2 linked regions of the Homo sapiens genome follow. The protein of the gene in region 1 purifies or fractionates together with the protein of each later gene. This does not show direct contact. Each region holds a gene or a part of one and is shown on either strand. Other genes may lie near its edges.

Evidence for each region. The genes of interacting proteins can lie anywhere in the genome.
Region 2: the proteins of EDNRA (region 1) and LMBR1 purify together in Homo sapiens (affinity purification with mass spectrometry; 2 studies listed by BioGRID and IntAct, with this or other methods). This does not show direct contact.

The regions. Positions count from the first base shown.
Region 1 is NC_000004.12:147,487,248-147,491,517, forward strand, and holds part of EDNRA (endothelin-1 receptor isoform a precursor), read left to right. Parts: intron 1-4,270. UniProt on the Homo sapiens protein: Receptor for endothelin-1. Mediates its action by association with G proteins that activate a phosphatidylinositol-calcium second messenger system. The rank order of binding affinities for ET-A is: ET1 > ET2 >> ET3.
Region 2 is NC_000007.14:156,889,963-156,894,962, reverse strand, and holds the start of LMBR1 (limb region 1 protein homolog), read left to right. Parts: upstream 1-1,779; 5' UTR 1,780-1,959; coding exon of another isoform or gene 1,960-1,969; coding exon 1,970-2,035; intron 2,036-5,000. UniProt on the Homo sapiens protein: Putative membrane receptor.

The DNA.
Region 1 (4,270 bases):
TGGAGGGGACAAACATCCAAACTATATCAGAGACTACTTAGACCCAAAACAAACTAAAGCCGAAGGAATTACATATTCCATATTTGGTCTAGTTGTTGGGAGGGAAAAATTGCTGCAAGAATTCAGATATACTAAAATTCAAATGAAATGGCCTGATCTATGCCAGATTTTATGAAATGTGTTTATTCTAAACCCAAGAAGAGTATTTTCCTCAGCCTTGTTTTTTCCTTCTATGTATTATGCATAGAAAGCAACTATTCTAAGAGGTAATATTCTGAAATATTACTTTAAATGGCAAGTTTTGTCAATTGAAGATACAACACATTTTAAGTAAAACAGTAATCTCTCAGTTTCCAATAAGTACACTTAAGCTGTGGTTAAATTATATTACCCTAGCAGAAAAATCAGTGGTCTGATAATATAGATGAAAACAATGGTTACAATTTTGACATTGCAAATAAAAACTTCCCAAAATTACACCAGTACACTGTTTCCAAAATTGAAGAGATTAGAGAACAAACAATCAAAAAATTACCATCTCTTTCCACAGGATAGCATAAATACATGTGTTTTCTATTAGAGCTTAAAATAGGAATTTAGAACTAAACTATGATGCAAAATTGAAAATGTGTAATTGATTTAAAATGTTTAGCATATGCTACATAACTTTAATCTTTTCTTTTAAAAAGTTTTCTCTTTATGATATACTATGTGCACACAACCACTTGACTTTCTCCTGACATTTCTCCTTAATGATAAATTGGAAAATTCAAATTTTGACTCTTCAGCCATCAGAGTGTGGAGTATCAAACATTGATTATTCAAACTTATGAACTAGTGAACCAACCCATCATGGCTCAAGAAAATAATTATCCATCTCTGCATTTATAACTCCCTGCTGCTGTTCACCCTGAAGCACACTATGTAGACTTGCCATGTGCAAAGCAGCTTCTTAGCCAATCAATATCCACAACTGCTGGGAAGGATACCTGCTTATCTCTTTGCGGTGCTACTGCCAATCACCAGACTAAACATCATTTCTATTCCATGGCAACGTTTTAAGTCAGACCATCTGGAATGTCTCCAGATTTGGTAAAAATGCAAATAAAACTTTGCTTTACATTCACCTAGCAATGAATAAAAATTAACATATTCTTATTTGACCATATTGTTCTCCCCTCCTGGGAATCCAATACTTTGTATACCTTACTGTAGTTCTAAATAATGTGGACAGTTTGACTGGTACTTTTACATCATAGGTAGGAGTACATTTGTGTAATTCCTGTTTTTCCAAAACTCGTAATGAGTCATTTAACTATCATTAATTTTAGAAAGTAAACCTTTAGGCTAAAAAAACAAATACTCTTTAGTTATTTCAATCTTTTTCCAGAGGAAAAGAGAAAAAAGCACTGGAGTGTGCTAAAAAGGCTCACAGTATTTAGGAGCAATCGCCACATCTTTCTGTCATCCTCTTCTCTAGGTCATGAGATCATACATGTTGCTATTCTTCTGACTTCTAAGCAGGATACTCAAGAGATCCTTCCAAGCAATGTGAGTCACAGGCCCCCATCCCTTTCCCCCATAGCTGCCTCCCATAGTAAAATTCTGTGGGAGTCTGTCACATATTAAACCTATAGATTCCTCTAACCATATCAAGTTCACTACCTCTGTATTGCAGGGCAAGGTAGCAGCTGTCCATCTCACTTTACCATTACATTTATGTAGCTATGAAAATAATGCATACAATTGGAGAATATTCAGTTAAAGGGATGTGTGAGCCTTCTTTATTTCCCTATTAGAAGGATTAGGTTGAAAGAAGAATAAATAGTTGAAAGTATCTAATATGCTCTTCAAAGAAAGATGAGTTTTGAATCACACCTATTTTTGTGTTTAACAATTATATTAATTGCTTTTCTTTTTTAATTTGTATAAATTTATGGGGTGCAAGTGTAGTTTTGTTACATGTATATATTGCATAGTGGTGAAGTCAAGGCTTTTAGGGTATCCATCACAAAAATAATATACATTGTACCCACTATGAAATTTCTCATCATCCACTCTTAGTTGCTTTTATGCTCAGTTCTAAGGTGTCTCCAGACAGACAACATTGCTTTGAGTCATATCAGAGTCAGCATAAGTGGAAGTAGACTATTTAAAGATTGTATTAATATCTGAGGCAAGCTAGAATTACTGATAAGACTGTAATAATGTTACAAGAAGAAGAAGAAGGCACTATAAAGTATTCTTCCTATTAACGTTTTATTCCCTTTCTCTCACTTTGAAAAAGATTGTACTGAAACGGTTTCATAGAGCAATGTAATATAAAACACAACTGAAAAGTAACATAACAGGTATCAAACAGCTGGGCTGTTTCGGATGTCATTAACCTGTGTAGCTGATGCTTGGTGGCTCTGGATGGCCTGTGGCATGGAAGGTGGGATGGGGTCATTCCACCCCTAAATTTTCAGAAATTTCTTAATTTCTTAATTGATCTCCCTATCTTCAGAGCTTCTTCCCCATAACATATCCGGGACTTTGCTTCCATCTGTCAAGTGCCACTGCTTCTAAAAAAGCACCCAGGAGCTCCCACCTGTCCCCCTTTTCCCCCATGTTTAGCAATCAAGGCCCTCCACACTTTGGCCATACTTCACCTCCTTCCTACTAATTCCCAAAATGCATGGCTCAGCTCTGTCAAAATGCTATCACTACCCCCAAGGAACATACTTTGCCCTAAATAACATTCTCAGAGAGACTGAATGTAGTCACCGAATTGCTGCTGCTGAAGCATTTACAGATCCTAGTTTGAAAAATGAGTTAGGCCTAGAATTATATATGTTGCATCTAACAGAAATAACCCAAAAGATGAAAAGAAGTTCCTATAGCCCTTGCTTACATACACTCACACACACACACACACACACACACACACACACACACACAACCTGATGATAAAAGAAACTCAGCAATCTAAGAAAGTAAAATGCAAGGCAGAAGGAACCAAGGCAAGCCAATGAATGCCAGTTGCCTTCTTGGTTTTGAAACACAATGGCCTTGCAAATGCTAATGTTGAAGAAAAAACTATTTCTAAGATTATCAAAGGATAACTGATTTTTAGTTGTTCAAAATAAGGATAATATTACTAATTGCAGTAGAAGATTGACAAAAGCAGGAAGGAGGAAGGGAAAGGAGTTAGCAGATTTTTTCATATACCCAAGCTTATAACCCATACTGCTGGTGGATTCATTCTTGTCAATAAATTACATTATCTGATATCCTAAATTTTCAAGAAAAACAAAAACTTAGCCAAGTAAATTAATCTGTACATAGGATATTTACATTTGTTAGAATGGCAAAATAGTTAAAACATTGTCTCCATGTTGGGAGACTGAAAATAACCCCTGATTACTAGATGACAAAATAGATAAGTATAGAATTTAATAATTATATTATTTAATGATTCATGAGATTACATGTATGCCATAGAGTGTTGTCCATAGGGAGATGGGTTATAATTTTGAACAGAGTGGAAGCCCTAAAAGTGATATTTGTGCATGAGCCAAGGCTTGGCACCATGTAGCTTCAGGATAACAGCTCCGCCATTATGCACACACAGACATTTCCATATATCACTGTACCTCGTCTCTTAAGCAGAAACAAGAATGCAGGGAGATGTATGTATGAGAGAGATGGAGTAAGGGAAAGAAGTAAGAGGTACAGTCCAATGGCTTGCCATAGACGCTTTTGACGTGCATAGCAGGGAGTTGATGCCGTGGATAATATGCCACGTAAATCACGTCTCCACTTAGCATGTGGCACAAAGCAGATCTGTGAGAACAACAGTGATAGAAGCCGGTAACTCTGTTGATTACTAATTTTGTCTACCCTAAGCAACCACCCCTTATTGAGGACAACAATGAAAAATAAACACATCTTATTTCTGCATGAAGTTACCACGAATATTTTGCAATGAAAAGTCAAGACTCTCAATATGTTGCTCTGGCAGAGGATCTGAACAATGTGGAAATGAGAGACATCCACATAGAGCCAGTTATCTCCATGTTCACACAGCCTTTGACATCTTGTGCAACTGGGATCCATCCTTCTGGGGCAGCTTTACAAAAGCTGCTTCTTGACATATCAAATCACCACAGCAAATTGTGTCTTAAAAATAAATTGTCACAACTTACAGATTAGATACCTCAAGCATAGTAGATGTTCAGTAATGCTTGTTGTTATGATTTGATTTGATAAGGGCCTTCACTCTTAAATT
Region 2 (5,000 bases), on another chromosome or scaffold:
TGGTGGGTAAACCTCTAGGGATGATTGCATAAAAGAAAATCAAAAGGTCTAGATGGTTGGAGTATTGCATTAAAAAGATGAGGAATACTACATGCATTCACTTTCTGGAATCTGTGTTTAAATGCCATACACTTTAAAATCTAATCTGCTTGCCCTCTGATTTGGAGAGAATTAACCCAGAAATTATCCAGGTTCTTTAGGGCTCCAAGACATTCTAAAAAATAAAGGTGAACGTTGAATTTAACCAGTTGACAGTTGTTCTTGGATTATGATCAATCAGCCTGTGGCAGCAGGGCACATGCTGAGAACAAGCCTCAGGTTCTCTAAGTTCTCCCACCACCACAATGTTCAGCTATAGTGAACTCATAGAAACCGTGTGTCGGGGCCTCCAACTTCGCCAAGCACCATAAGAAGTTTGAGTTGTGAAAAAATTTTCTCTACTCAAAATTGTGAAGAGAAACGGCAAGGTTTAAATTACCACATATTTGTCTTTGAAGAACTTTACAACAACTTCATTGACTGTTAAATTTAGATTCATAAAAATCTAAACAACGGCCGGGCGCGGTGGCTCAGGCCTGTAATCCCAGCACTTTGGGAGGACGAGGTGGGCGGATCACCTGAGGTCAGGAGTTCAAGAACAGCTTGGCCAACGTGGTGAAACCCCGTCTCTACTAAAAATACAAAAATTAGCTGGGCGTGGTGGCGGGCGCCTGTAATCCCAGCTACTCGGGAGGCTGAGGCAGGAGAATCACTTGAACCCAAGAGGCAGAGGTTGTTGTGAGCAGAGATCGCCATTGCACTCCAGCCTGGGCGACAAGAGTGAAACTCTGTCTCAAAAAAAAAAAAAACAAAAACAAAAACTAAATGACATTTGAAAGCAATTTGTAGATTTTCACACTTCCTAAGAATTCTCAAAGATGCCAAAAACAAAAATCGCAGCCACTAGCAATTTAAATGACTTCCTCGTAGCCAAATAAATCCTAAGGTAAAATTATAAACATTCCCTTAAATTCAAATTTTATAACAAAAAGAAAGATAATAGGGAACGGAGGGTGAATTATTGTGTTTGATATATTTGGCGGTGAAAAATACATATATTACGTGCTGTTTAGGGTCCACTGAGAGTCATAAAACTGACCCTAGTGACCGAGCTACCGGAAGGACTTGGCAAGGGTCTAGCGAGCTCGGTTATCTGCGTTTTCCAGGTGGGGCAGCCCAAGACCCTTCTCAGACCCAGAGAAGCTGGGTTTCCGCCCAAAGCCCGGCCCCAAACCACCGATTTCCGACCTTTCAACCTACTTTGGCAGAGCAAGAGTTTCCGCGGGAGACTCCCTGCTTCCCTCTGCCCAGGTCCCCTGAGGCCGAGTGCGGTACTGAGTGCTGAGTAAGGGGTGCCGAGTGCCAAGCACTGAGTAACTGGGGGAGGGGAACCATGCAGCTGTCATAAATAATTAGCTCCTGTGAGGAACAGGAACTCCGAGACTGCGGCCGGGCCAGGTGGGCAGAGGTCGCAGCGCCCTCGCCGCGTTCCCCGTCCCCATCCGACGCCAGGACAGCGCCTCCTTAACTGGGGTAGCCCCTGAGAGCGTGGGCGGAGCCCCGCCCCGCGACCTCAAGGCCCCGCCCCCTCAGCGCCTCCCGGCCCAGCAGCTCGGAAGACCGCGAGGCGCGCTTTTCTGACGCATCGGCGCCTTTCGTCTGACGTATGCCTGCACCGCCCCCTCCCCTCCCTGCCCCGCCCCCGCCCCGCCCCCGACTGCGCGGCGCCCGCCCTCCCTTAGTCAGAGCTGCTCGTCTGAGGCTGCTGAGGCGACGGCCGGTGTCGTGGTCGCGGTACCTGTTCCAACACGGCTCGCGGGCCCGTGCCGGCTCCGGTCCCCGGCGCGGCTGTCCGAGCCCCTGCGGCGGGCGGACGATGGTGTGGCGGAGCACGCGGACGCGGGCGGCGCGGCGGCGGGCATGAAGGAGGATGGAAGGGCAGGACGAGGTGTCGGCGCGGGAGCAGCACTTCCACAGCCAAGTGCGGGAGTCCACGGTGCGTGGGGACCGAGGCAGCCCTGACAGTCCCGCGTGCCCGCCCGGGCCCTCCGTCCCCGCCCCCGGGCCCCCGGTCCCCGGACCCCTCACCTCCGGGCCTCGCCTCGCGCCTCCCGCCCCGGCCTCTGCCGCTCTCCCTCCCCACCCCTCCTCTCCCCTCCCCTCCCCTTCCCTCCCCACCTCTCCTCTCCCCTCCCCTCCCCTTCGCTTCCTCTGCCTGCCCCCCCGCTCCGCTCTTGCCTCCCCTGCCCCCTCGCGCTCCCTCCGTTCGAGCCCCGACCCCGCCCCCGCCCCGCGGCCTCGGTGCTGCCCTTCCCTTCCCGCGGGGAGGGCTGCGGTGCGCGCCGCGCTCTGGGACCCCAGGGGCTTCCTCTCTGGGCGGGTGTGCGGCTCGCGCCTCGGGGTGTGGACGGCGGCCCCGCCAGTGCGCGCCCCCGCGCTCCGCCGCCAGGCCAGGTAGGCAGGTGGATGCGCAGGCGTCCCGGAGAGCCTGGGTGGGCCCGGCGGGTCCGGGAAGGGCCGGGCTGCGCGGAGCCCGCCCGCCTCTCGCGTTTGGACCCGGCCGGTTACCTTGTCCCGGTCAACACCTCCTGCCCTCCTGGCGCCTCACGTTTCCATCCCTCTTTCATCTCCCCCAGCCCCCACGTGGGTTGAGTTCGAAACCTTACCGTTTGGGATGAGAATATTGGTTATTTTTGGGAGTGAGGACCTCAGCAAAAGTCCATTTTGCTATGGAAGCAACTTCTTAGGGAAGCAGCTTCTTTTTTGGCCCATGTTCCATGTGTGCTGTTGGCAGGAGTCAGGAAGCGGACTTGACCTTGGAAAGTCTACTTTGATGTTTTTATCTTTTCATGATGCTCTAGAATGTATTGTAATTGGGTTTATCTGTGTTTTCATAACTGTTGTAAAATATGTCAATTTTTTATGTTTATATTTACGCCTCTCCTAAGTTGTCTACGATTCAGTCACACTTGGTTTGAGGTGAAAAAATTCTGCTTTAGAATTATCTAATTTGTGTACTCACTGATCTTGAAAATTGAGAATCACTTTGGAAGTCATACTTTGAATAAAGAGGACATATAAAGTCTGAGCTGGTGGAATTTGAGTTAGTGGAATTTGGTACACATTTAGTTGTAATTTTTATAATTGAAGCTAAAATACACAGAGATAAGTTCATGTAATCATACATGTACCCTTCAGATCATTTCATACTAAACACGCCTGTGTACTCCTGAATCCACCAGGAGTTTGAGACTGGTCAGCCTGGGCAACATAGTGAATCCCCATCTCTACCATTATAAAAAAATAAATAAATAAACACAATTTTACTAGGATCCCAGAGACTGATTCCTTTCCCTCTTCCAATTACTTTCTCCTCCACCAAGGGTAAACGTTGCCCTGGCTTCTAATATCATAGATTAGTTTTTGCTTAGTTTTGAACTTTATGTAAATGGAATCTTACCGTATATACTCTTCTGTGTCCAGTTTCTTGTACAATGTTTGTGAAATTTCTCCATGTTGTATGTGGTTATAATTCATTCTCGGTGCAGTAGTTGTGTGACTATAGCACAATTTATTTTTCATTTTACTGTTGATGGGCACTTCAGTAGTTTCTAGGTTTTGGCTATGAATATATATATGTGTATATATATGTGTATGTATATATGTGTGTGTGTGTGTGTGTGTGTGTGTATATATATATATATATATATATTTTTTTTTTTTTTTTTTTTTTGTGATGGAGTCTCGCTCTGTCTCCCAGGCTGGAGTGCAGTGGCACAATCTCGGCTCACTGCAACCTCTGCCTCCGGGATTCAAGTGATTCTCCTACCTCAGCCTCCTGAATAGCTGGGATTACAGGCACACACCACCACACCCAGCTAATTTTTCTATTTTTATTAGAGACGGGGTTTCTCCATGCTGGCCAGGCTGGCCTTGAACTCCTGACCTCAGGTGATCCACCTGCCTTGGCCTCCCAAAGTGCTGGGATTACAGGCATGAGCCACCACGCCGGGCTGGCTATGAACTTTTTGTACATAGCTTTTGGTGGACATGTTTGTGCATTTCTGTTGGGGATAGCCCTAGGAATGGAATCCCTAGGTTAAAGAGTGTGCATTTGTTCATCTTTAGTAGATACTTTAAAACAATTTTCCAAAGTGGTTGTACCAGTGTACACTTCCGCCAGTACTGACAGTCTCAGAGGTGTGGTTGTTACTCATCTTTATCAATACTTGATATTTTCTGTCCTTTTTAATTTTAGTCATTCTAGCAAGTGTGTTATAGTGTTCATCATACAAATAATTTTAATTTGCATTTTCCTGATAACTAATGAATTTGAGCACCTGTTTGTTTATTAGCCATTTGGAAATCTTGTGAAGGGTCAAATTTTTTTCCCCATTTAAAAATTAAGTTTATCTTTTTAATATTGATTTGCAAGGTCTTTACAGAATAACTTGTATTATATTGTTATACAGGTGGATATGATTTCTTTGTCAGAAATATATACTGCACATATTTCTTTCCCACTCTGTGGATGCCTTTCACTTTTAATGATATCTTCTGATGAACAGAAATTATTAATTTTAATATAGTTCAATTTATTAAAATTTTTTTGAGTACTTTTAATGTCCCGATTAAGAAATCTCTCCTTACTCTAAGACTGATGTTCTCTTCTTCTTTTCTCTAAATGCTTTATTGAATTACTCTTCTCATTTAAATTTGCAATCTATTTCGAATTTATTTTTTTGTGTCTGGTGCAAGGTAGGAGTCATATTTTTTTCTCCCACAGGAATGTCCAATTGCTTCAGCACTATTTAGGACTTTTGTCACAGATAGGTAACTGTATATTCATAGGGTTTAATTTTGGACTTTATGTGGTTTTATTGGTCTATTTGTCTTTAGTTTTATTATTTTTTAAAATTTGAGACAGGTTCTCCCTCTGTTGACCAGGCTGTCGTGCAGTG